Homo sapiens: one gene and its partners. The protein of the gene in region 1 purifies or fractionates together with the protein of each later gene. This does not show direct contact. Each region holds a gene or a part of one and is shown in the gene's direction. Other genes may lie near its edges.

Region 1 (3,500 bases):
GAGGGAGGAATTGTATCTCCATTTTGCAGATCAGGAAATAGAGGCATGGATTGTATCCTGCCCAGGGTCACCAAGCTGAGGTGAAACCTGGGGCTCCAGTCCACCTGCCAGCTTAGCCCTCCCCATCTGAGACAGAGCCCTGTTAGGGTTAGGCCTGGTCCTCTGGCTTCCAGGCTGAGGGGAGTTTGAATTCTGCCCTGGGAACCTGTGTTTGGGGCTTTCTTGTGGCCAGATTACCCAACTGCTGATAAGGTAACGCCTGCCCAGACCTGCCCACGGGACCAGAGATGCCTTGTTGATCTGGTGAGGGGAGTGGGGGTTGCCCCTCATGCCTTCCACCCAAACCGCCTCTCCCCAAACTGCTTTCTGTAGGCCTGCTTGCTATACCCTCTGGGCCACACCTCCTCTTGGTTGTCCTTGGGTCCTGAGGCCTGGCCTTCCCTTATTACTGGGCCCTGATAGGAGGAGGCTGGCTGTGTGGGCCACTCTGACCTCTGTACTCATCCAGCGGCCAGTTGCAGGACTAGGCTAGGCCATACCTGCTTTCTCTCTCTGTCCCCATCAGCCACCACAGGTTGGGCTCAGAGCAGCTGCCAGTGGGTCTTTGGGAAATGAGTGGCCAGGCGGGAGTAGGCATGGAGTAGAAGGGGAGGCTTTGCTCCACGGAGTGCCATAGTTGGTTCTGGAGCAGAGGAGTTCCTCCACCCCATCACCCCATCTCCTAGGCCTGAGTCTTTCCTGGTCCAAGATGAGTAGCGGGAGTTTCTGGTAGGAGGGTGAGCAGCCTGGGCCCCGTGGAACAACTCCTTGACCCTCTGCCCTGGTACCTTGTCACTGTCATTGTAGCTCCTGAATGAGAGGCCTGGGTGCTGGAGTGAGGGAAAGGGACCTCCCTCAGACTTCTGGGGCTTTATGTGGCCTCTCCCTCCCCAGGTCTGAGGAGAGCCTCTGGGTGTCGACCTGGCTTCCTGGTGAGTGCCCAGCCACCCAGCCCTGGCTTGTAGGAGGGGGACTCTTGCCATGGCTGGGCTGTTGCAGGAAATCCAGGGCCAAGGGACCTGCTCCTCTCATGGCACCACCGTATGTGTCGTCTCCTCCTTGGTCTCCCTCCCTCCAGACTCCCTGTCCCATCTACCTTCCATGTGGCACCATCTTTGTAAAGGTTGACTCTGACCATGTCCTTCCCCTCTTAAGCCTTCCATGGCTCCTCAGTGTCCTTAGAATAGAGGCCAAGCTTTTCAGCCTGGCATTTGAGCCTTTTCAAGTGAATTCCTCAGGCTCCCACACATTCCATGCCACCTCACCCTCCACAGTAGCCGTATAAGACCTCCCAGCCTTTTTCCAGCAGGTCACACTTTCATCCACCAAGTCTTTGCTCATGCCTCTCCTGCCTTCAGAGCCCTCCTCCCTCTTTGCCCACCTGACAAACTCCTAATCATCTACCAGTTTCCAGCTCAGATGACCCCTCCTCTGCAGAAGCACTCCCTGACCACCTCCCCCAGGCCAGGTAGGAGTTGCTGTGTGCTCCATAACCCCTGGGCTTGCCTTGGTTATGGTTTATTCACCCAAGTGGATTTGGTCCATGTCTGTGTCTTTTTCCTCAGCCTGACTGGGTACTCCTCAAGGGCCCAGCAGAGTGCAATCTGAGTCTGAGTTCACAAGGTCCATCTGAGGCCAGGTGCACCAGAGCATTGGCAAGTGTTTGCTGGGACTTTGTGGTTCCTGGGAATGTGATTTAAGATTTCATTACTCTGAATCCAGACCCCTGTGGCTCTGAGAATCTCAAAACCAAAGGCTATCAGGAGCAACGAGTAATAGAATTGAAGAAACACAGCCTTCACACCCGGAACCAGAGCCTCTTGGAATTAGACTGCGAGAACCAGGGAACTCAGAATCCTGGAGGTACCTGGAGGGGCCATCTCAGAATCAGAGGCTCATGTGGTTCCTGGTTGATGCTTTCATCCCCCTTTCCACCTTGGATTCTCCATCCACCTTCTTTCCTCCCAAGCTGGACCCTTCCTGCTCCTCCTCAAATCTTATCACAGTTCCCCTTCCAGGGACCTTGCCTGACTGCTCTGACCATGACCTCTGTCCCTCTGCTGGGGAACACCTGGGAGGGCCTCCCTACCAAGCAGTGTCATGGGCTCCTGAATTTCAGTGTCTCCCTGTTGTGACAGGCAGACACAGCCTCCACATTAGGACAGTTCATGATTTGCTAGCGCCAAGGTGCACCCACCTGCCCCCTTGTCTTATTCCTCATGAGCTGTCCCATGCAGCAGTGATTCTCCCCATCTGACCACTGAAGAACCCGAGGCTCTGAGAAGGGGGGCTGACTTCACCAAGACTGCACAGCACAGGTGGCTCCAAGTTAGAGCCTGAACTCACGGTTCTTGCCTCTTGAAGCTGGAGGCATTTGGCTGTGATAGGTTGGGGTGGTGTCCAGGACGTTGTGGTTCTGAGCCTGTTTAATTTAGTAGCATGTCTCTGTAGCCCTGTTCTGGGCTATGCTGGGTTCCAGGTGAGATGGGTGGTTTGGGGTCCTGCTCTATGTTGGGGGTGAGGTGGTCAAACCCACACTGACAATAATTGGAACACTAGACCTTGAGTAAGGCCCTTCCTCTTTAGAGGTCTTGGCTTTCTGATCTGTAAGCCTGGTTGATCTGAGACTTACCCACTCTGATGCTGCTCTGAGCTCAGCCTTGGTGAGTGGCCTCCACAGCCAGGATCCTAGGGGGGTCCCAAAGAGGGAGAGAACATCTGGGAGGGGGTAGAGAGCCCAAGGGCCTCCTGAAGGGGGTGCCTAACACCACAACAGCACCGGCTGATAGCATCTGAGGTTACCCCTTAGCCATTTCCTCAGACCGGCCCTGGTGCTCCCGGTGCAGAAGCATGTCAGGCAAGGCAGGGGGCCTGCTGGCTTTCAGCCCCTTGAAGGACATTGGGGAGGAGCCAGCGTGACTTCTAAGCTCCTCAGCCTGTGCACTCTAGCCTTGCCCTCTCCACTCCCCTCAAGCCACCAGGATGATGAGCAGTTCCTCAAACGTGTCATGTCATCTCTTGTTCATCCTCACTCTGCTCCTCTTCTCTCTCCAACCACCTGACTCCTCGTCTTCCAAAATGCAGGTCAGGCGCTCTCTCCTCCAGGAAGCCTTCCCTCATCACCCCTCCAATCCTGTTAGGGGCCTCCTTGGCTTCCTCCAGGCCTGATCACCCTGTGTTATCATCGCCTGTTTCTGAGTGTGCCTCCCCTGACGTTGACAGTGAATTCCTTGAGATCTGACCTACCTCAGAGTCCCCAGGTGCCCTGCCCAGCAGTGGGCATAGATGTGGCAACCTTTGTGAAGGGTGAGCGAGTGAAAGAGTATGGTGGCTATCTGGCTTCTGCTGGGGAATCCCTGGACTGCCTTCCCCCTGAGGATGGCCTTCAGTGTGGGAGACCTGATCTGTGGTTTTTCTGGTTGTGACCTTCCTGTATCCCCTTCCCATAATTCCTGCGAAGC
Region 2 (3,500 bases), on another chromosome or scaffold:
GTCAGATCTCACGTCCTGATGCTTTAAGCTGCCTGCTGGGAAATGATTAGCAGAGGTCTGTATCCCTTGGGGGTGATGAAAGAGAGAAAGAGAAGTATTTTCTGTCTCTACTTTCCATTTACTAAGACAAATCCTTTGGTTATGAAAAGCTTTTGCTTTTATCTTTTTTGAGAAAAACATGACCTTTCAGTAAGAATTTTTCTAAATAATATGCTGACCTTTCTATTCATAAATTGTAAGGTTGCTTTAAAAATGGGCCTTTTATCTGAGTGGCACAATATAGTCTCATTCTACTAGCCTTTAAAGTTAAACAATAAGGACTCCTATTTCTACCTTTAGAGTTACTATTTTTATAATTATGTGTGTTTGGCTTGCTTTTTGCAGGTAATTATCTTATAGTCATTACCAAAAAGATAAAAGTAGGTGAATTTTTCAGTCATGTAGTCTGGAAAGCAACAGATTTTGATGTCCTTTCTTATAAGAAGACAATGTTGCACTTAACTGATATTCAGGTAAGAACTGGAAATTGTTACTAATTGCAGCGCCCAAAGAAGTAGCATGGGCTGGGGAGAGGAGGGTGAGGGTGTTGTGGAATACAAAGAATGCTATAATTATTTTAACAACCTATAGAGTAAGATCACTCTACCTACTTTTCTACCTAGGCATAAAAAATATTTTTTAAATCATTTGTTGCTCTTGTTTTTTTTTTTTTAAAGATTCAGTTCTTAAATTATGCAATTTCATATGGAGAGAAGGGAAAACAGAAATGCACGGGTACTCAACACCAGATTTAACTTCATATCCTCTTTGTAAAGAAATAAAATATAAATACCTTTGAAGTTCTACTCCTCTTAACTCATTCCCTTCTTTCCCAGAGAGGTTTTCTCTATTTTTACCACATGTGAATGTAAGTGTGTGTGTGTGTTTATGAAATGTGTATATATTCTTTCAGGCAGTTTTCCTTTTGCACTATTCCTGTATGCACAGATTTCAGTAACCATAGTTTAGTTAACACCAGTACCCAAACAGCATGGCTTAAATTTCAGTTACTCCAGTTTATTAACTGAAGAATTAACCCACCAAAGATGAAGGTGCAAAAAAACAAAAAGCAACAACTCTGGAAGAGAAATTGAAATTGAACATAAATGGAGCATAGAAGAAGTAGCTGACCATGGGAATGCTGACACTATTCACCATTCAAGGGACAGTAGGTATGCAGCCAGAGGTCCTGGTGCAGGCGAACTGACCGACATTAATGATGGAGTGGCTGTGACGAAAGGGATGACAGTATCCCAGAGAAAGTGATGCCTGCAACAGACTTCCCATTAAAGGAAACCTTGGAGATATTTCCCAACATTGAAAGTGCAAAGGATAAAATGTCAGAAGTTGGTTTAGACTTAGGAAGGTGTATGACAGTTCACCAGGGATAGAAGAAATATTCTGTATCTTAATCTATATGACAAGAAGGCGGCAAGCACTGTTCAAGTCTCTTGATAAATTTTTTTACAAAGAAAATATTTTTTATTCTCGGTGTTTCTAATGTTTTAAATTATAGTGTGCTAAATATTAGTTTTACAATTTGTTCATTTATGCTTATAATTTACTATATATAACTTACAAGTTACATCTACAACGTAACTATATAAGTTAATATCTATAACTAATATCTATAACTTACAATAGAGTTTTTAATGTTTTGACAAAAAAAATTTTTAAAGGTCATGAAACAGTCATAGTTTTTACAATTGACTGTTAAGATAGCTTAAGATTATTAAGATGAAAATAACATGGTAATTTTTACATTCCCACTTTACAAAGTAAAGACTGCCTGTATTCATATTTAAACAGGATCTGTTTTTGCTCGGAGTGTGTATGAAACTTACATGAATGGCATTGCCCTGTTCTGATTCTTTGAAACTTACTTTTTAAAGTCAACATTGTTTAGAGATATATATACCTGTTGAGAGTGATTGTTTTCTTAATGTAATTTTAGTTACATGTTTGCTATTTAAAAATTTTAAGTTGTATTTTTACACCCAATTTATAAGAATGTTTCTAGAAGAAAATATATTATTCTAAAACATATAACTTAGGATAAACATTTTAAAAAATAAAATTATAGCACTGCCTACCTGAGTAAAACTACAGGATATGCTTTTTATACTTTAGAATTTCTTTTTTATTATATATATCAAGAAATATATATCAATATCTTCATTCTCTACTAGGCATATTTTAAAGAAATAAAAACAGCTGTATTTATTTAATAGACCAGTCATATTTACTTAGACAATTTCTTCTCGATTGTTATTCTTTGTTGTCAAGCTGTGTAGCTAATTTTAAAAACATGTCTGAGCACAAATAAAAAATTTTGTATATGTAGATTTGTAACATGTAGATTAACAAGTTAATCATTTAGTAATGATTAAACGTTACCAAACATTAACAATTGTTTTTTAAAACAAGGATAAAAACAAATGTCAATCTTAGTATTCATTGGGAAAGCTAGTTAAAATGGTTTCCCAAAAATAAAGATAAATATTGCTTTTACTGGACTTTTTAATCTTTGTTTTAAAGAAAAAGAATTCCATTTTACTTCTCGTCCATCCCAAACCAGGGAACGTTTCTTGAGAATGTGGATGATGTTAGTATCTTGTTATTTGCTGTTTGCATTATTGGGCCCGTCGTAAATTTATGTGTTTTATTTGTCGAAGATAGCTATGCTAACTTAGCAGGGCTGTTGTGAAGATTAAAGGGAATCTTTGGAAAATACCTGGCACACAGTAGGTCATAACCGAAGGTGATGTTTTGTTAAAACTACTCTTCTGCCTTTGAGAATAAAATTTGTAAAGGATACAAAGGGGAGGAGTCCTACCTAATCAAGTTACCTAATAGTACCCTACAGTGTTTATTGAGTATCTTCTGTGTGTCAGGAACTGTCCTACATCCCAGGGAAATGGCGAGCATCCCCCTCACTGGCTCAGTCCTTGTGCCAGTAGTCTTTAATGAGACTGGACTTAACAGGATTTAATTTGTATTCTTTTCTCATGCTGGCAGATTCCTTTTCAATTATGAGCTATACTGATTTTTCTTTGTTTATAGTTACAAGATAATAAAACCTTCCTAGCGATGCTAAACCATGTCTTGAATGTGGATGGATTTTACTTTTCAACAACATATGATTTGACCCATACTTTGCAGCGGCTATCCAACACTAGTCCTGAATTCCAAGAAATGAGTCTCTTGGAAAGGGTAAGCTTGATCTTCAATTATTTTTATTTTTAGGTTTTTAAAAGGGACATGTCTCTGTTTCATGCATAAAAATTTATATTGATTTTTCTCAGTCCTGGCTATCTTAGAATCATGTATGAGGCTTTGAAAATATACCCTGTTTTAAATATACATCACAATCCCAGTGTGTGAGTCCTTGAATCTGTGTATATATACAGCCAGAATTGAGAATCACTGGTGTAGATATTCAGAAATCTTTGTATAAACAC
Region 3 (3,500 bases), on another chromosome or scaffold:
TTTATATAAATGTTAAGTGAATGATTGACAATTTAGGAATTCTGTGTTAAATAGTTTTATTGATTTTTTTTTTTTTTTTTTTTGAGATGGAGTCTCGCTCTGTCGCCCAGGCTGGAATGCAGTGGTGTGACCTTGGCTCACTGCAACCTCTGCCTCCTGGGTTCAAGTGATTCTCTTGCCTCAGCCTCCAGAATAGCTGGGACTACAGGCACCCACCACCACGCCCAGCTAATTTTTTTTGTATTTTTAGTAGAGACAGGGTTTCACCATGTTGGTCAGGCTGGTCTCGAACTCCTGACCTCGTGATCTGCCCGTCTCGGCCTCCCAAAGTGCTGAGATTACAGGCGTGAGCCACCGTGCCTGGCCAGTTTTATTGATATTAGGTTTAGTGGAGTTTGCAGTTCAGAAAACTCAAAAAGTATCAGACTTAAAACCCTTTGGAGTGGCTATCATTTTACCAAGTTTCCCTTTCTGAATCAAGTATATATGTCATTACTGTTTTCAGTTGGCATATGAGAGCCTTGTGAGGTAATGCCTGAGAGAGCACTTGGAAACCCATGAAACATCTCATGATTGTAAGCTGCATTATGATAAGATATGGAAGCTTTTATGTAGTAGATAAACTCATCATATAAGCTCACTGTAGATTACCCACTTGGAACAGTTGAAGGCAATGTGTTATTCCAGAAAGCTTCAGTGTCTAAAAAACACACTATTGGCATACTTCTATTTAATAACGGGTGGTTTTTAAAATTCTTTCTTTTAGAAAGTGCTTTCAAAGCATTGGAGTGCTCTCAGAGATGTCATCCTACCATAAAATACTTTGAAAGGAAAGAAAAATGCTTTTTTGCTGGAAGTAAGATGGAATTGTAATAAATGCTTTGGCTTAGATAATTTTAATATGTCCCAGAGAAAAAGAGGACACACACAAACACTTGCACGAGATACACACGAGATCTTTTCCGGGACTGTTTTTTTTTTTTTTTCTTTTTTTGGACTGGATAATAAAAAATGTCCCAGTTAGCTGGGACTACAGGCTCATGCCACCTCTCCTGGCATAGGGGATTGTTGTTATTAAAAGTTTATCTTGTAATGTGTTCTCTCAATAATCCCAGCCCAGTGTGGATACTGTTTTTTTACAGGGTATTTATTGAATGCCAGGCTTATTGAAAAGTTAGAAGTTTGGGTATGTAAGTTTGGGTTGTATCAAGAAAAACAAGTAAGTAGCCAGAGCTTTTTAAAGTTAAAAATGAAAAAGTTCATTTCCATGAATCTAACTGTATTGTATTCCTTTTGTGTTTTGTATGTATGCATAGGATTTTTATATTACTTTGGGAACAGGATGTGTGTTTTTGTTGGCATCCATCATTTTTGTTTCCACACATGACAGGACTTCAGCTGAGATTGCTGCAATTGTAAGTACCTTGTATTTTTAACATTGCTTATTTTTGTTTCCTTAGAAATATGGAATTTGGAGAGTACTTGACAAGTTATACAGCATGTTAGAGTTGTTTTTCTTATAACTTACTTTTTAGTGTAATTTTGAATAGAAGACCTACAAGCAAATCAATATGATAGCCTTTAAAACCTAGAGCCTATAGAATTTGACTGAATTTTGTTTAAAAAAAATCCACTTACTCCACATACCGTGTGTTATTGCTAATGGAAGTGGTAAAATTGACTTTATTATTTTATATTTCTCCACTTTCAGTTCAATAAATGCACACCTACATGCCAGGTGTTTTCTAGGTATGGAGAATATATGGGAGAAATGATTCAGAGACTCAGTCTAGAAAAGGAGACGGAAAAGTAAAATTGTAATGGAGTTTGTTAAATGAACCAATAGCAGTTGTTCTGAGACTGGGTGCCGTGGCTCAGGCTTGTAATCCCAGCACTTTGGGAGGCCAAGGTGAGAGAATCACTTGAAGCCAGGAGTTCAAGACCAGCCTGGGCAAGCAACATAGTGAGACCTCATCTCTATAAGAAGAAAAAAAAAAATAATAGAAAAAAAAGTTGGTCTAGACAGCAGTTTTCAGTGGGTTATACATATCCTTAAAGTTTCATCAGACTTTTCAAGGAGTATGAGGCAGAGATAGTGTTGAGGAAATTAATTTCCAGCTTTTAAACCTCCATATGTAATCTTTTTTAAAACTTGTATGTCTGAGAATTTATCTCTGGTGAAGGAGTCTCACCGGCACTTTTCCACCTTCCCATTCACAGTCGCCACCTACCTTGCCCCTCAAAAAGAAAAAAAACTTGCTTGTCCTGAATCTTGCTGGATTAGTTCCTTCTTGCCCTGCTATATAGAAATACCTGACACTGGGTAACTTATAAAGAAAAGAGGTTTAATTGCCTCATGGTTCTGACAGCTCTATAGGAAGCATAGCAAGGGAGGCCTCAGGAAATTTACAGTCATGGCAGAAGGCGAGGCGGAAGCAGGCACATCTTACATGGCCAGAGCAGGAGGAATAGAGAGAGTGGGGAGGTGCTACACACTTTTAAACAAGCAGATCTTGCAGTAACTCACTATTACAAGAACAGCGCCAGAGGGGGAGTCTGCCCCATGATCCTGTCACTTCCAGCTAGGCTCCACCCCCAACATTGGGGATTATAATTTGACATGAGAATTGGGTGGGGACACAAACCCAAGCCATATCACTTATTATGGTGGATTACCCTGAATTGTAAAACAAAAAAACCCTTGAGTACAACAAAGAGACAGTTGAAAATAAAGATCCAATTTTTCTCTGAAATTCTTGGGGCCAGAATTTTTTTCTTTTGGATTCAGAATATTCTGGATTTTAGAAAGGTAGTGCTGTACATATGCTATATTACACAACACCACTTGAGGGCCTGCGACAGTACCCTGTAATCTAACATTGGTATATCTGAAGTAAAACATATGAATATTTATAGTAAAAGGGATAAGAAAAGACTAAGTAGTCTTACTCCATGTAAATAGGCTTACTTTGTGTCAATTTTGAGCCAAGTGAATCATGAAAACCTTGAGTTAATGTAGTTCTTTGGGTTTCGGAATTGTAAATTAAGGATCATGGCCTTGGACTGGTAGCAGTGCTGTGAACTTGAATGACTAGCAACTGGACAACAAATCATCTTGCAAGTCAGCTGGTTTCCAATTAATACTTTGTTTTTAACAAAATTGAAGTTAGGCCGGGCGTGGTGGGTGGTGGGTCAACGCCTGTAATCCCAGCACTTTGGGAGGCCAAGGCGGGCGGATCAGGAGGTCAGAAGTTTGAGACCAGCTTGGCCAATATAGTGAAAGCTTGTCTCTACTAAAAATACAAAACTTAGCCGGGCATGGTGGCAGGCGCCTGTAGTCCCAGCTACTCGAGAGGCTGAGGCAGGAAAATCGCTTGAACCGAGGAGGCGGAGGTTGCAGTGAGCCAAGATTGTGCCACTGCACTCCAGTGTAAGTGACAGAGTGAGACTCCATCTCAAAAACCAAAAACAAAATTGAAGTTGTAATTAATAGAGTTGTC
Region 4 (2,844 bases), on another chromosome or scaffold:
AGGAGATCGAGACCATCATGGCTAACACGGTGAAACCCCGTCTCTATTAAAAATTCAAAAAAAATTTAGCCGGGCGTGGTGGCGGGTGCCTGTAATCCCAGCTACTCGGGAGGCTGAGGCAGGAGAATGGCATGAACCCGGGAGACGGAGCTTGCAGTGAGCCGAGATCCCGCCACTGCACTCCAGCCTGGGCGACAGAGCGAGACTCTGTCTCAAAAAAAAAAAATGGTGCAGGATAGAGGCTACCTGTCCTGTCAGGTGGGGCTAGTGCAGCAGCCTAGCCTTCCTTGGTGGCATCTCTGGTCACCCCCATAGGTTCTTTATGGACTCAACAGGAATGTCACTTGAGCTGCAGATACTGATTTTGCTGATGGATGATGAAATTTTTTTCTTCCCTGTTGGGCTTTCAGTCCTTGCCTTAAGGAGACCATAAAAAAAGTGGTGGGAGGCCAGGTACAGTGGCTCATGGGTGTAATCCCAGCACTTTGGGAAGCCGAGGGGGCAGATCACTTGAGGTCAGGAGTTCGAGATCAGCCTGACTAACATGGAGAAACCCCGTCTCTACTAAAAATACAAAATTAGCCGGGTGTGGTGGCGCATGCCTGTAATCCCAGCTACTTGGGAGGCTGAGGCAGGAGAATCTCTTAAACCTGGGAAGCGGAGGTCGCGGTGAGCCGAGATGGTGCCACTGCACTCCAGCCTGGGCAACAAGAGCGAAACTCTGTCTCAAGACAAAACAACAACAACAAAAAAGTGATAAGCTGGGCACAGTGGTTCATGCCTGTAATCCCAGCGCATTGGAAGGCTGAGGCGGGTGAATCACTTGAGGTCAGGAGTTCAAGACTAGCCTGGCCAACATGGTGAAACCCCATCTCTACTAAAAATACAAAAATTAGCCAGCCATGGTGGCAGGAGCCTGTAATCCCAGTTACTCAGGAGGCCGAGGCAGGAGAATCGCTTGAACCCGGGAGGTGGAGGTTGCAGTGAGCTGAGATCACGCCACTGCACACAAGCCTGGGCAATACAGCAAGACTCAGTCTGAGAAAAAAAAAAAGAGTGATAAACCCACTGGGTGCAGCGGCTCATACCTGTAATCCCAGCACTTTGGAAGGCTGAGGTGGGTAGATCACTTGAGGTCAGGAGTTTGAGACCAGCCGGGCCAACATGGTGAAACCCAGTCTCTACAAAAAATACAAAAATTAGCTGGGCAAAAACAAAATTATCTGGGTGTGGTGGCACATGCCTATAGTCCCAGCTACTTGGGGGCTAAGGCAGGAGAATTGCTTGAACCCAGGAGGCGGAGGTTGCAGTGAGCCAAGATCACGCCACTGTACTCCAGCCTGGGCAACAGACTCTGTCTCAATCAATCAATAAAAGTTGAAGGGAAAAAAGAAAGAAAAAGGCCACTTAATTATCCCTTCTCTATACAGATTCTCAGCCAATTGAGAACTGCAGAAAGGAGTTAGGTAGAGGTAAAAATGGAGATTGTATTGTAGGTAGAGGCCCAGTCAACACATGGCTCAGACCCACAGCCAAAATGCACCTTCACCCCCTCCCCTTTTCTGTTTCCTGGTTTAAATCTGGGTTCTAGGCTGCAGAGCAAGCAGCATGGGGAACGGGGACACTAAAGGGCAAGTGTCCTGGGGGACTTATCTGGAGCTCTCAAGATGGTGAGATCAGTACTTTCACCTGCTTACATGCAACTAGGTGCTGCTGTGTGACCTCTGAATAGTCCTGGCCCTACTGCAGGGTCACTACCCCTGCTGACCCCACCATCAAAACCTCTGGATTGTTGATGCTGGGTCTCCAAATCTGCGCTTTGCATGCACCATGAAACTTGTTGCCAACTGTAATTTCTTGATGTGTGCAAGTGGGTTACATAATACCCAACCCATAGGATGCTAGAAGGACTGGGGAGACAGCATTTGATCAGGGCCTGGCACTCACTAGGCCCTCAGTGGGGCCATCCCAGTAAGCCTGGTTCAACACCCACGGGAACTAAGCCTGCTGTTGCAGATTCTCGGTCGTCTGCCTGTGTGCCGAGTAAGTCTTTCGGGGGCCAGATGGTCAGGGTAAGTCTGTGTGCTCAAGTTAGAGATGTGGATTTGGGAGTGATCAGGGCTCAATAGAAATGCATCATTGAAAGACAGGCCTTTCAATGTCAGTTGGTGCAAGATGGGCCTACAGAGGTCCATTGTGCAGTGGGCTTTCAGTCCCGTGTTTCAGACACCCTCCAGGTTTGGGATGGGAGGGGCAGAGTTGTTAGGGGAAGTGACAACACCCCTGAGCCTCCCTCCAAACCCATATTTAGGATTGTCTAAGGCCAAATGTTGAAATAAGCAATGGTTTCCCCAAGGCCCCCTGCTTCCTCTTTCTGCACCCTTCTATTCTTTCAGTGCCCTTCCTCCAAGCACCCAGGAAAACAAGGGTCCAAAAACAAAAAACTCCGAGACAGAGGGCAGCAAAATAGGAGCCAAATGCAGCCTACCACCTGCTTTTTACAGCCCATGAGCTATCAATGGTTTTTACATTTTTAATTGGTTGGGAAAAAATAATATTTTGTGACACATTAAATTCAAATTTCAGTGTCCATAAATAAAGTTTTATTGGAACACAGCCACAACCATTTGTTTACAGATTGTCCATGGCTGCTTTCAGCCGAGGTGAGGAGGTATAGGCTTGCAAAGTCTAAAATATTGACTCTCTGGCCCTTTAAGGAAAAGCTTGCCGATGCCCTGCTCTAGGATGTGTCTTGTGCCCAAGAGATCTGCTTTCCAAGGAAAGGGCAAACCAGTCAAATCCAGGCAGATGTGCAGAGGAGACACTGGACAGGGAAGCCTTCCT
Region 5 (3,500 bases), about 73 Mb from region 1:
GTCTCTCAGTACTGAAGGGCCCCACGGTGTGGAGCTCAGCAGGAAGGCTGAGGTTCCCTGCGGTTTCCTCATGGCTTAGGACTCAAATGCAAATGTATCTAAAGAAAAAGGTGGTTGATAGTCACAATGAAACTTTTATTTACCTCTGGTTGTCTTAAATGCCTAGTATTGTAAAATATGGCAGAAGAATTCACTTTCATGCCTGTAATCCCAACACTTTGGGAGGCCAAGGTGGGCAGATCCCTTGAGTTCATGAGTTTGAGACCAGCCTGGAAAACATGGCAAGACCCCGTCTCTACAAAAAATACAAAAAAATCCAACCTGACCCACATGGCAAGACCCCATCTGCACAAAAAATACAGAAAGTTCCAGCCTGGAGCCTCCACCTGCAGTCCTGCAGCTCCACCCTGGCTCTTCATGAAATCGGCTAAGTCCAGGTGTGGGTGCGTTCAGTGCAGCACCCACGTGCAGGTGACACGCCCATGCACCGCCACAACCACGCTCACACCAGAACATTCCATCATCCGGAAGGCCCGTGTCTCCGCTCCAGTCTGCTTTTCGTGGATGCAAACTCATTTCCTTGAGTCGTGTGTGGGTGACAGCAGATGGGAGGTTTCTTTTGTGCCTGGCGTCTGTAGCGTGTTTTTCTTTTTCTTTTTTTATCTTTTGAGACGGGATCTCACGATGTTCATGATGTTGCCCCGGCTGGTCTTGAGCTCCTGGCCCAAAACAGTCCTCCTGCCTGGGCCTCCCAAGGGGCGTGTCTTTGAGATCTATCCACGTTGAGGTCGTTGCCAGCAGCACATTCCTCTGAGTGCTGAGCCATGCTCCGCTGGTCGGAGGGACCACAGTGTTTCCTCCACTGATAGAGTTTTGGTTTGTTTCCCGTTTTAGGTTATTATACCTGAAACATCTGCATGTAAGTCTTTGACTGGACCTGTGTTTTCATCTGTCTCAGGCCCACGTTTGGGAGTGTGTCTTTGACTGGACCTGTGTTTTCATCTGTCTCAGGCCCACGTTTGGGAGTATGTGGCTGGCTGGATAGCAGACGTAGCATAGGCCTCACTTTTCTGTGCCGTTTTGCAGTCCCACCTGCAGTGCGTGAGCATCTTGCTCCGAGACCTCACCAGCACTCTGCATTGTGATGTTCTTAATTTCAGCCGTTCCAGCAGATGTGCACTGATGCTGTGTCGTGGCTTGGATTTGTGATGCTTTTAATTTCAGCCGTTCCAGCGGATGTGTACTGATGTGTCCTGGCTTGGATTTGCTTTCACGGTGACCAGTGCTGCTCCTCGTTTGTTCATGTGCTTATTGGCCATTTGTATGTTTTCCTTGTGAAGTGTCTGTTCAATTTTTTGCCTATTTTTTCATTAAATTGTTTATTGAGCTGTATGAGTTCTTTATAAATTCTGGATAAAAAGTATTTTTTTTCTTTTTTTTTTTTGAGATTGAGTCTCGCTCTGTCGCCCAGGCTGGAGTGCAGTGGCGCGATCTCGGCTCACTGCAGGCTCCGCCTCCCGGGTTCACGCCATTCTCCTGCCTCAGCCTCCCGAGTAGCTGGGACTACAGGCGCCCACCCACCACACCCGGCTAATTTTTTGTATTTTTAGTAGAGATGGGGTTTCACCGTGTTAGCCAGGATGGTCTCGATCTCCTGACCTCGTGATCCGCCCGCCTCGGCCTCCCAAAGTGCTGGGATTATAGGCGTGAGCCACCGCGCCTGGCCTGATTTTTTTTTTTTTTTTTTTTTTTGAGACAGATCTTGCTCTGTCTCCCAGGCTAGAGTGCAGTGGCACAATCATCCTAGCGCACTGCAGCCTCAACCTGGGCTTAAGCGAATCTGCCACCTCCCGAGTAGCTGGGACTACAGGTGCCTGCCACCACGCCTGGCTAATTTTTTATAGAGATGGGGTCTCACTGTGTTACCCAGTCTGGTCCTGAACGCCTGGGCTCAAGCAATCCTCTTGTCTCAGCCTCCCAAAGCGTTGGGACTACAGACGCGTGCAGCCTACAAAGTTTTATCAGATATATGTATTGTGAATATTTTCTCCCAGTTTGTGACTTGCCTTTTCATTTCTTTAGGGCACAAATAGTTTACATTTCATGGAGGCAAGTCCTGGGCAACATGCTTTAAGTGCATTGTTCACTTAATTTTCATGATGTCCTTGGAAGTCAGAAGCTTCCCCATTTAGATATGAGGAAACTGAGGCACGGAGGGGTGCATCATCTCTCCAAGGACACACTCCAGTGGATGTAGGACCTGGGTTAGACGTGAGGACACACTCCGGTGAATGTAGGACCTGGGTTAGACGTGAGGGGACACTCCGGTGGATGTCGGACCTGGGTTAGACGTGAGGACACACTCCGGTGGATGTCGGACCTGGGTTAGACGTGAGGACACACTCCGGTGGATGTCGGACCTGGGTTAGACGTGAGGACACACTCCGGTGGATGTCGGACCTGGGTTAGACGTGAGGACACACTCCGGTGGATGTCGGACCTGGGTTAGACGTGAGGACACACTCCGGTGGATGTCGGACCTGGGTTAGACGTGAGGACACACTCCGGTGGATGTAGGACCTGGGTTAGACGTGAGGACACACTCTGGTGGATGTAGGACCTGGGTTAGACATGAGGAAACTGAGGCACAGAGGGGTGCATCATCTCTCCGAGGACACACTCCGATGGATGTAGGAACTAGGTCTCTGCCTCCATTTGCAGATGGTCATGCAGAGGGGGTCTCAGGCGAGTGTCTGGCACAGGCAGTGGCTGGGGTCTGGTGGCCCCCAGTTCTGATACTAGGCTGGTTGTGGGCTTTTCCACCAGCGATGGGACAGGACAAGACTGCAAAGGGAGCGCCCTGCCTCCTCCTCCCACGTCTGGGCTCTGACAGGCCAGAGGACGGGCAGACCCACGGCTCGTGGCTCACTCCAGCTAGCAGCGGTCACTCTGCAGGCCTCTGCTCAGGCCCCTTCTCAGCTCTTGGTGTCTTGGGCTGCTGCACTGAATCTCAGATGTTATTTCATGAACCCAAAGAGTTGTTGTCTCGGCTTGTCTTGCGCAGTGAAAAGCGCGTGTTTTACGTGTCCAGTTGCTCTTAATAGCAGATACCTGCCCTGGACGCCAGTGGCAGCATGTGCCCTCTGAGCAGCGGCCTTCAGCTTCCCAGGAACACGGGGCTCTTCCTGTCCAGCCTCCTGGGGGCTGGTCTCAGCCCTGACTGGCCAGCAGACGCAGGGTCATCTCGGAGTTACCCAGCTAGGGACTCGCAGCCAGTTGCTGGTTGGGAGTTGGAGAGTGGAGTTTAAGCCCTCTCCTTGACGTAGAGAGGATTTGGGGCCTGTTACGTGAGTATTTAGCAATGCTGCCCAAGCTCTGACACCATGCTTATGCGTTTTTGGATTTCAGGCGAGCCCACACCTTAACCGTGCTCTTCATCCTCACCTGTACGCTTGGCTATGTGACGCTGCTGGAGGAAACACCTCAGGACACGGCCTACA
Region 6 (3,500 bases), on another chromosome or scaffold:
GACTGCAGGCATTGATGACGGGGAGCCTTCCTGGCTTTGTCGACGTCATCAGGAACCTCAATTCTCCTGCACTGCTGGAAGACAGTGTGATAAGACAAGCAAAAGCAGCTGGAAAAAGAATAGTCTTTTATGGAGATGAAACCTGGGTTAAATTATTCCCAAAGCATTTTGTGGAATATGATGGAACAACCTCATTTTTCGTGTCAGATTACACAGAGGTCAGTTTTTAAAATAAGAAAATATATCATACTAGAATATCATACTAGATAGAGCCTGGCATCCCATTACTTAGTGAGAGATGATACCATTTTATATTTGGTTTTATTAATTTATAGGGAGTACTATGGACAGGTGTAAAAATTATTCACTCACATAATCAGTTAACAACCCAGAAATACAAACCTGAAGCAGGTGTGAGCAGAGTTTTATGGAACCCAAAGCTTAGAACAGCTGAGTGCCATTGAGGGGCAGAGAGGATCAGGAAGGGTGACACAGCCAAGGGACTGTCTGAGCCGAGATATGATGGGTGAGTGGGGACTCCCCAGGTGGGCAGAACAGGCTGGTAGCTTCTGCACATGGCAGAGCTGTAGGACTCCACAGCCTGTTGGTTCTGCTGCAAGCGGAGCCTCATCGTGCCCTGAGGGCAGGTGGCCGACTGGGTGGGGCCTGGTCCTGAGGGGGTTTTCCTGGAGCTTTTCCAACAAAAATTAGACCTGCATGTTAGAAAGCAGACCTGGGGCTGAGGTAGGAGCACACCAGCACACCTGCCTGGCCTGGGGTTTAGCCAGCTTCACCTCCTAGATGGCTGGGCCTTATGGAGCATCTGTAGTCCTATCCTGTTCCAAAGTGGGGCGCTTTTCAACAGTTACTTTTCAGTAATGACTGAGTTTTCCTGACTATATATGGCATCACTGAGAAACACTTCTCTTCATAGGAGATTTTTTTAGTGGGAGGGAGATGAGCTAGCTGAGGGGTCAGGGCTCACCAGGCTGACAGCTCTATTGGGGGCTGATCAACTGCTCATCTCTCCTCCGTGATGTGTTTATTTCAGAAATCAATGTGATCATTGAGTGCTGTGTCTTTTTCAGAACAGCCTTCTTGTAGGACACATGTAGATGCCCTCAGCTTCATCATCCTGCTGGTTACTTTAACGCTGGGTACTGTCCTGTCTTTAATTAACTGCCCTTTGCCCTTAGTTACCTCATGACAACTTGGGATCTATTTAACTTGCCCATTTGCTCACCTTCAGTTATGCCCATTAAGCCCAGCAGTGATCCCACAGAAAAATATTTTTGTCAGAAGAACCCTTGCTCATTTAAATTATCTGTAGAATATATTCGATCCATAGCCCAGAAACATAAAAACAATATTAGCAAAAGTTTAATCCAATGCTAATGTTCATTTATTTATTATAGACGTGGGGTCTTGCTATGTTGCCCAGGTGGGTCCTGAACTCTTGGCCTCAAGCAGTCTTCCCGCTTCAGCCTCCTCAAGTGTTGAGATGAAAGGCATGAGCTGCTGTGTCCAGCCTATTTATTTATTTTTAATGACATAGATTTTGTTGTGTTTCAACTCCCCCAAATCCTGTAACCTGAATAAACCCCTAGATTTTAAGATGACTGTTGCGTTTTCCCCGGGGAGTGAAGATCCAGGGAAATTAGGTGAGTTGTTTATACGTGTGTTTCCCCTTCAAAGGTGGATAATAATGTCACGAGGCATTTGGATAAAGTATTAAAAAGAGGAGATTGGGACATATTAATCCTCCACTACCTGGGGCTGGACCACATTGGCCACATTTCAGGGCCCAACAGCCCCCTGATTGGGCAGAAGCTGAGCGAGATGGACAGCGTGCTGATGAAGATCCACACCTCACTGCAGTCGAAGGTGAGGCTCGCCGTCGCTCACTGTCTGCTGATGTGGTTTCACGTGGATGTTCCCTAGAATAAATGCAACCGCCTGAGTTATTCAGGGTGCCTGTGTGAATGTCCACCATCAGTCTGCTAGCCAGGGGCCGCATGCCACACGGGCAGCACTGTCTCAGTGTCCACTGCACTGACTCCGTCTTCCAGCAGCCCTGCAGAACAGCAGCTCTCACTCCTACCCGTGTATGCATTCATTCAACTAATACCTCCTGAAGACCTTTTGTGCCACTCTCTCTGTTCTGTATCACTCTCTCTGTTCTGTGCCACTCTGTTCTGTGTCACTTTCTGTTCTGTGTCACTCTCTGTTCTGTGTCACTCTCTCTTCTGTGTCACTCTCTGTTCTGTGTCACTCTCTCTGCTCTGTGCCACTGTCTCTGTTCTGTGTCACTCTGTCTGTTCTGTGTCTCTGTTTCTGTTCTATGTCACTTTTTGTCCATGCATTTGGGTGCATCAGTGAAACAGTCGATAATCCCTCGTGAAGCTCACGCTCTAGCCAGGAGAGATGAGAAAGATGAGTAAATAAGTATGTGAGGAGGTGATGGGTGCTGCAGAAACTCAGAGGGCAGGAGGAGGGGCTTTCAACAGCGTGTTGAGAGAAGCCTTCCCTGAAGACGTGTGCAGGGTGAGCAGAGACTTGAAGGGAGGGAGGGGCAGACCATGTGGTCTGTGCACGAGTGTTCCAGGAGGACCAGCAGCGAGGGTCAGGCACAGCCTGCCTGGCTTGTCCCGGAGCAGCAAAGGATGTGTGGCTGCAACCCCAGGGGCAGAGAAGCCTGGTGGGTGCCCCCACATGGCTCAGAGCTCTTGCCTTTTGCTGTGTGTTGTGTTCTCACCAGAGTCCTGTGAAAGATTCCATTTGACAGATGAGGCGACCAAGGCACAGAGTAGAATGCGTCCAGAGTCTCACAGCTTGGCAGTGGCAAAGACAGAAACCAGATACAAACCGTCTGCCATCAGAGGGCAGAAATGCAGCCTGCTGTGCTCCATGAGCTGTGTACAATTCTGTGAACTTCATTTATGGCATTATTTGACTGTGACCCTGTGATCTGGCTATGAGCTCATAGGAAAAAAAAATCTAATTCATTGAGAAAGAGCTACAACTCTATAAAGTAAAGCTAAAACCGAAAATTGTCTTCTTAAGATGATGTGCTCTCTTCAGTCTGAACGCAGTTGAAATGTTTTTCCTTTGCCTTAAAGGAGAGAGAGACGCCTTTACCCAATTTGCTGGTTCTTTGTGGTGACCATGGCATGTCTGAAACAGGAAGTCACGGGGCCTCCTCCACCGAGGAGGTGAATACACCTCTGATTTTAATCAGTTCTGCGTTTGAAAGGAAACCCGGTGAGAATTTAGGAATGTTAACAGTTGGAAATTGTATTACATTTGTTTTCTATAGTCTGGTTTTAATTTTGAAAACCTATTTTTTAGAAGCTCCATAAGGTTGAAGTCCCCAAGCAATGTGAGCATGAAAAGTAATTGGGCAAAAGGCTTTTGGGATCTGAAGTTACGTTCCTTCCCGAATCCTTAAAATACAGTTATTCTTTGTCAGAATTTTGTTGTATGAATGTTGCTGCCTGGAT
Region 7 (3,500 bases), on another chromosome or scaffold:
TTAACCTAGTCTTTCCAGCAAACTTTCTCCATACGACGATCACAATTTAAAATTTTCTTTCCTATTATTATAAATGTCACAGTCCCAATGATGTCTTTCAGACTTTGAACTAAAAGCAGCAAAAAAAATCTAACATCAGATTATATGCCCCCGTTTTTGTTTCAGAACAGAGTATCACTCTGTCCAAGGCTTCTCAACCACCGCAGTCATAGGATGTTTCTTTTGTATTAATATGGAACTGTTTCCTGGTAATTTATTTTACTTAATACATCTTTCTCTTGATTTTTTTTTAACAGATATGGAGATTAATCACCAACTTCTTATTTTTTGGGCCAGTTGGATTCAATTTTTTATTTAACATGATTTTTCTGTATCCTTTATTAAATGGGGTCAGCATCAAAACTTTTTCTTAGGAAGTAAAAAATTAAGTTGAAACTTTTCATCCTGTTACTTGTTTTTGGTACCATCTTAGCTATGATTTCTGGGTCAGTGGTACATAAAGTAGTTGCTTAGGTAGTAATGTTTTGAAAATGTCTGTAGGTCACTTTGTTCAAATGGGAGGTTTTAACCATAAAAAGATAGCACTTCTGCTCTTTTGTTACTTACAAATCTGATCAAGGGAGGGGAGAATTGATTTAACTGAGGCATACCTCCACAGTAACCAACAGGTTCGAAGCCGTAAAACAACCTGAATGCAATGGTAATTCAGCAGAATTTGGGCATAAGTTTTGGAATGGGTTCATGAGGAGTGGGAACCTGAGATCTCCTTGGGTCCTGGTTGCTGGAACTACTGGCTGAAAGACAGTGGTTGTGTCTGCTGGGCTTGTCAAGTTCCGGTTTGTTGAAAGGAAAACCCCAGCTCTGATCCAATGGTAATTGGGGCCACAGAGCAGGGCATTCCTCTTCCACCCCTGCCCTCTGTATTAAGAGGGAGTTACAGTTCAACTCATCTGCAGCTGCATTCCTTCCTGAGGATGGCAGGAATCCATTTTATATCCTATGTAGGATATCATTCTGATAAGTTTCCATTAAAGTTTTTTCTCATCGTAATTCATCTTTATTGACTGAGGTGCTCAACCTGCCAGGCTGGAAAAGTAGTTGAGCACACAAGGCTTCTTGCTGCGGATTTCTTCCAAGTTAGGATGTGGGAAAGCAAAGATGGTGCATATTAAGGTGTGGCTGAGCACAGGAAAGACAATACAAATTTTTAAAGGTTTAATAGGGGACTGGAGGGCCGGGTGTGGTGGCTCACACCTGTAATCCCAGCACTTGGGGAGGCCAAGGCAGTGGATCACGAGGTCAGGAGTTTGAGACCAGCCTGGCCAACATGGTGAAACCTGCTCTCTACTAAAAATACAAAAAATAGCCTGGCATGGTGGCACACAACTGTAATCCCAGCTACTCAGGAGAATGAGGCAGGAGAATCGCTTGAATCTGAGAGGCGGAGCTTGCAGTGAGCCGATATGGCACCATTGCACTCCATCCTAGGTGACAGAGCGAGACTCTGTCTCAAAAGAAAAAAAAAAAAGAATAGGGGACTGAAAGCATGTCTGTGTGTCATCTGGATTAGTTCCCAGCCAGGGACAGTTTGTAAAAAATGATGCTGGTCTTGACCTTTTCTCAAATGCTTGGTAAAAAAGTAATCACATTACCACTCAAACATTCTTATACAAATGAAGACTTGACTAATTACAAATAATATGGAATCCAAGTGTACTTACAAGATAACATTAAATTTTTACTTTGTTCATATTCGTGTGCTTAATATTTTCTTAACTTGGAACTTAAGATATCGTTACTGTCGAATGCTAGAAGAAGGCTCTTTCCGAGGTCGGACAGCAGACTTTGTATTTATGTTCCTTTTTGGTGGATTCTTAATGACCGTATCCTTCAACAAACAACACGGGAAAATGTTGAAGAACACCCTGGCTCTTCCTAAAGCTTGTCATCTGTCTCCCACAGTTCTCTAGATCTTAGCTTCAGGGCACTATCATTTATTTTACAGCACATTTTCTGTGACAAGTTTCCAAACCTAGCAGTCGGACAGGATGAGCAAGTCAAAGGAACTTTTAACCCAGGTGGGTTACTGTTAAGCAACTCAGTTATATCATTACTGCTTGGCGTACTTCACTTTTAAACTAAGTTGGTAAGACATTTACTTGGTGGCTACCAAAACCAATAAATTATTTTTTCAGAAAAAGAATTTTCATCTATACAATAGACTTAGATATGGTACGGTCTGACAAGATGGTTTTGTTCCAGCTAGCTTTATTCATCTCTGTAAAGGTGCTAATCGTGAGCAAGCTTTAATATAATTATTGACTGAAGAATTAACACATTTTCCAAAGAGGCAAGAACTTCACGAAAGCAGAGTATTTGTTTGAAGTAGCTGTAAATCTCGATAATTTAGCCTAAGCAGATTTTTGCCTGATTGCTCTGGGTAATTATTTTCTGGGTGTTTCTCCTTCTATTCTAAAGATGTAACAACTTGACTTTTCCAATTCAAACTTCTGTTAGAACACAATCTTTAGTTCTCCTGCTCAGTCTTTCCTATTAAACTTTTAATGTTGATATTTTCCTTAATGCCATCTGCTAGCTTTTTGGTCTGTTTGTGAGCTTAGTTTTCTTGGGCCAGGCCTTTACAATAATGCTCGTCTATGTGTGGAGCCGAAGGAACCCCTATGTCCGCATGAACTTCTTCGGCCTTCTCAACTTCCAGGCCCCCTTTCTGCCCTGGGTGCTCATGGGATTTTCCTTGTTGTTGGGGAACTCAATCATTGTGGACCTTTTGGGTAAGGCTCTTCTCACTATTTTTTAAATTATTTTACCTGTAAAAGTATTTTGTTACTATTTTTCATGTTTATTCTGTTTGGCCTTCACGTATTACCTATTGTAAAATACCACAATATTAGTTCATTAATTTTTAATAATTATGTTGACATTCATCCTAAATATAGGCAATTTGTGTTGGTAGGTCTACCTGCAATCTAAATTTTAATTCTCTCCCTCATCCTTTATTTCTGCTTGACTCTAGGTATTGCAGTTGGACACATATATTTTTTCTTGGAAGATGTATTTCCCAATCAACCTGGTGGAATAAGAATTCTGAAAACACCATCTATTTTGTGAGTATTTAACACCAGGTTACATACTCTTACAGGCAAACCAGGACAGGGGCATGATCTGTGTTTTCTTTGGCTCCCCTAGCTCCTAGTACACATAGCTCAGGTCAGTAACCATTTGCAGATTGAGCATTCTGGCTACAGTTGAAGAGCACTTGGACTGGGTAGGAGCAGACAGTGCCAGGGTTGTGGCAAGACCAACGTCAACAGGCTCAAGATATCTTGGGAGTAACCTGGTAATTGTTAGAGATGACCACTAGAACTTCTATTCTGGTAGGAGCCTGCTGGTTTTATGAAAGCTGCTGTCCACGTTTAGTGAAGTAAGGTAGCAAAATGGGCAAAACTGATGAAAGTTTCTGATGGTGGACTTTGTGGCCT

Evidence for each region.
Region 2: the proteins of P2RY2 (region 1) and SACM1L purify together in Homo sapiens (affinity purification with mass spectrometry; one large-scale study listed by BioGRID and IntAct). This does not show direct contact.
Region 3: the proteins of P2RY2 (region 1) and CMTM6 purify together in Homo sapiens (affinity purification with mass spectrometry; one large-scale study listed by BioGRID and IntAct). This does not show direct contact.
Region 4: the proteins of P2RY2 (region 1) and THADA purify together in Homo sapiens (affinity purification with mass spectrometry; one large-scale study listed by BioGRID and IntAct). This does not show direct contact.
Region 5: the proteins of P2RY2 (region 1) and PTDSS2 purify together in Homo sapiens (affinity purification with mass spectrometry; one large-scale study listed by BioGRID and IntAct). This does not show direct contact.
Region 6: the proteins of P2RY2 (region 1) and PIGG purify together in Homo sapiens (affinity purification with mass spectrometry; one large-scale study listed by BioGRID and IntAct). This does not show direct contact.
Region 7: the proteins of P2RY2 (region 1) and DERL2 purify together in Homo sapiens (affinity purification with mass spectrometry; one large-scale study listed by BioGRID and IntAct). This does not show direct contact.

What each region holds. Positions count from the first base shown.
Region 1 is NC_000011.10:73,221,281-73,224,780, forward strand, and holds part of P2RY2 (P2Y purinoceptor 2), read left to right. Parts: intron 1-3,500. UniProt on the Homo sapiens protein: Receptor for ATP and UTP coupled to G-proteins that activate a phosphatidylinositol-calcium second messenger system. The affinity range is UTP = ATP > ATP-gamma-S >> 2-methylthio-ATP = ADP.
Region 2 is NC_000003.12:45,706,396-45,709,895, forward strand, and holds part of SACM1L (phosphatidylinositol-3-phosphatase SAC1), read left to right. Parts: intron 1-384; coding exon 385-512; intron 513-3,102; coding exon 3,103-3,252; intron 3,253-3,500.
Region 3 is NC_000003.12:32,485,853-32,489,352, reverse strand, and holds part of CMTM6 (CKLF-like MARVEL transmembrane domain-containing protein 6), read left to right. Parts: intron 1-1,316; coding exon 1,317-1,415; intron 1,416-3,500. UniProt on the Homo sapiens protein: Master regulator of recycling and plasma membrane expression of PD-L1/CD274, an immune inhibitory ligand critical for immune tolerance to self and antitumor immunity.
Region 4 is NC_000002.12:43,233,195-43,236,038, reverse strand, and holds part of THADA (tRNA (32-2'-O)-methyltransferase regulator THADA), read left to right. Parts: intron 1-2,844. UniProt on the Homo sapiens protein: Together with methyltransferase FTSJ1, methylates the 2'-O-ribose of nucleotides at position 32 of the anticodon loop of substrate tRNAs.
Region 5 is NC_000011.10:456,779-460,278, forward strand, and holds part of PTDSS2 (phosphatidylserine synthase 2), read left to right. Parts: intron 1-3,408; coding exon 3,409-3,500. UniProt on the Homo sapiens protein: Catalyzes a base-exchange reaction in which the polar head group of phosphatidylethanolamine (PE) or phosphatidylcholine (PC) is replaced by L-serine. Catalyzes the conversion of phosphatatidylethanolamine and does not act on phosphatidylcholine.
Region 6 is NC_000004.12:505,710-509,209, forward strand, and holds part of PIGG (GPI ethanolamine phosphate transferase 2, catalytic subunit), read left to right. Parts: intron 1-8; coding exon 9-218; intron 219-1,695; coding exon 1,696-1,884; intron 1,885-3,119; coding exon 3,120-3,261; intron 3,262-3,500.
Region 7 is NC_000017.11:5,479,679-5,483,178, reverse strand, and holds part of DERL2 (derlin-2), read left to right. Parts: intron 1-296; coding exon 297-370; intron 371-1,789; coding exon 1,790-1,883; intron 1,884-2,036; coding exon of another isoform or gene 2,037-2,078; intron 2,079-2,596; coding exon 2,597-2,792; intron 2,793-3,034; coding exon 3,035-3,125; intron 3,126-3,500.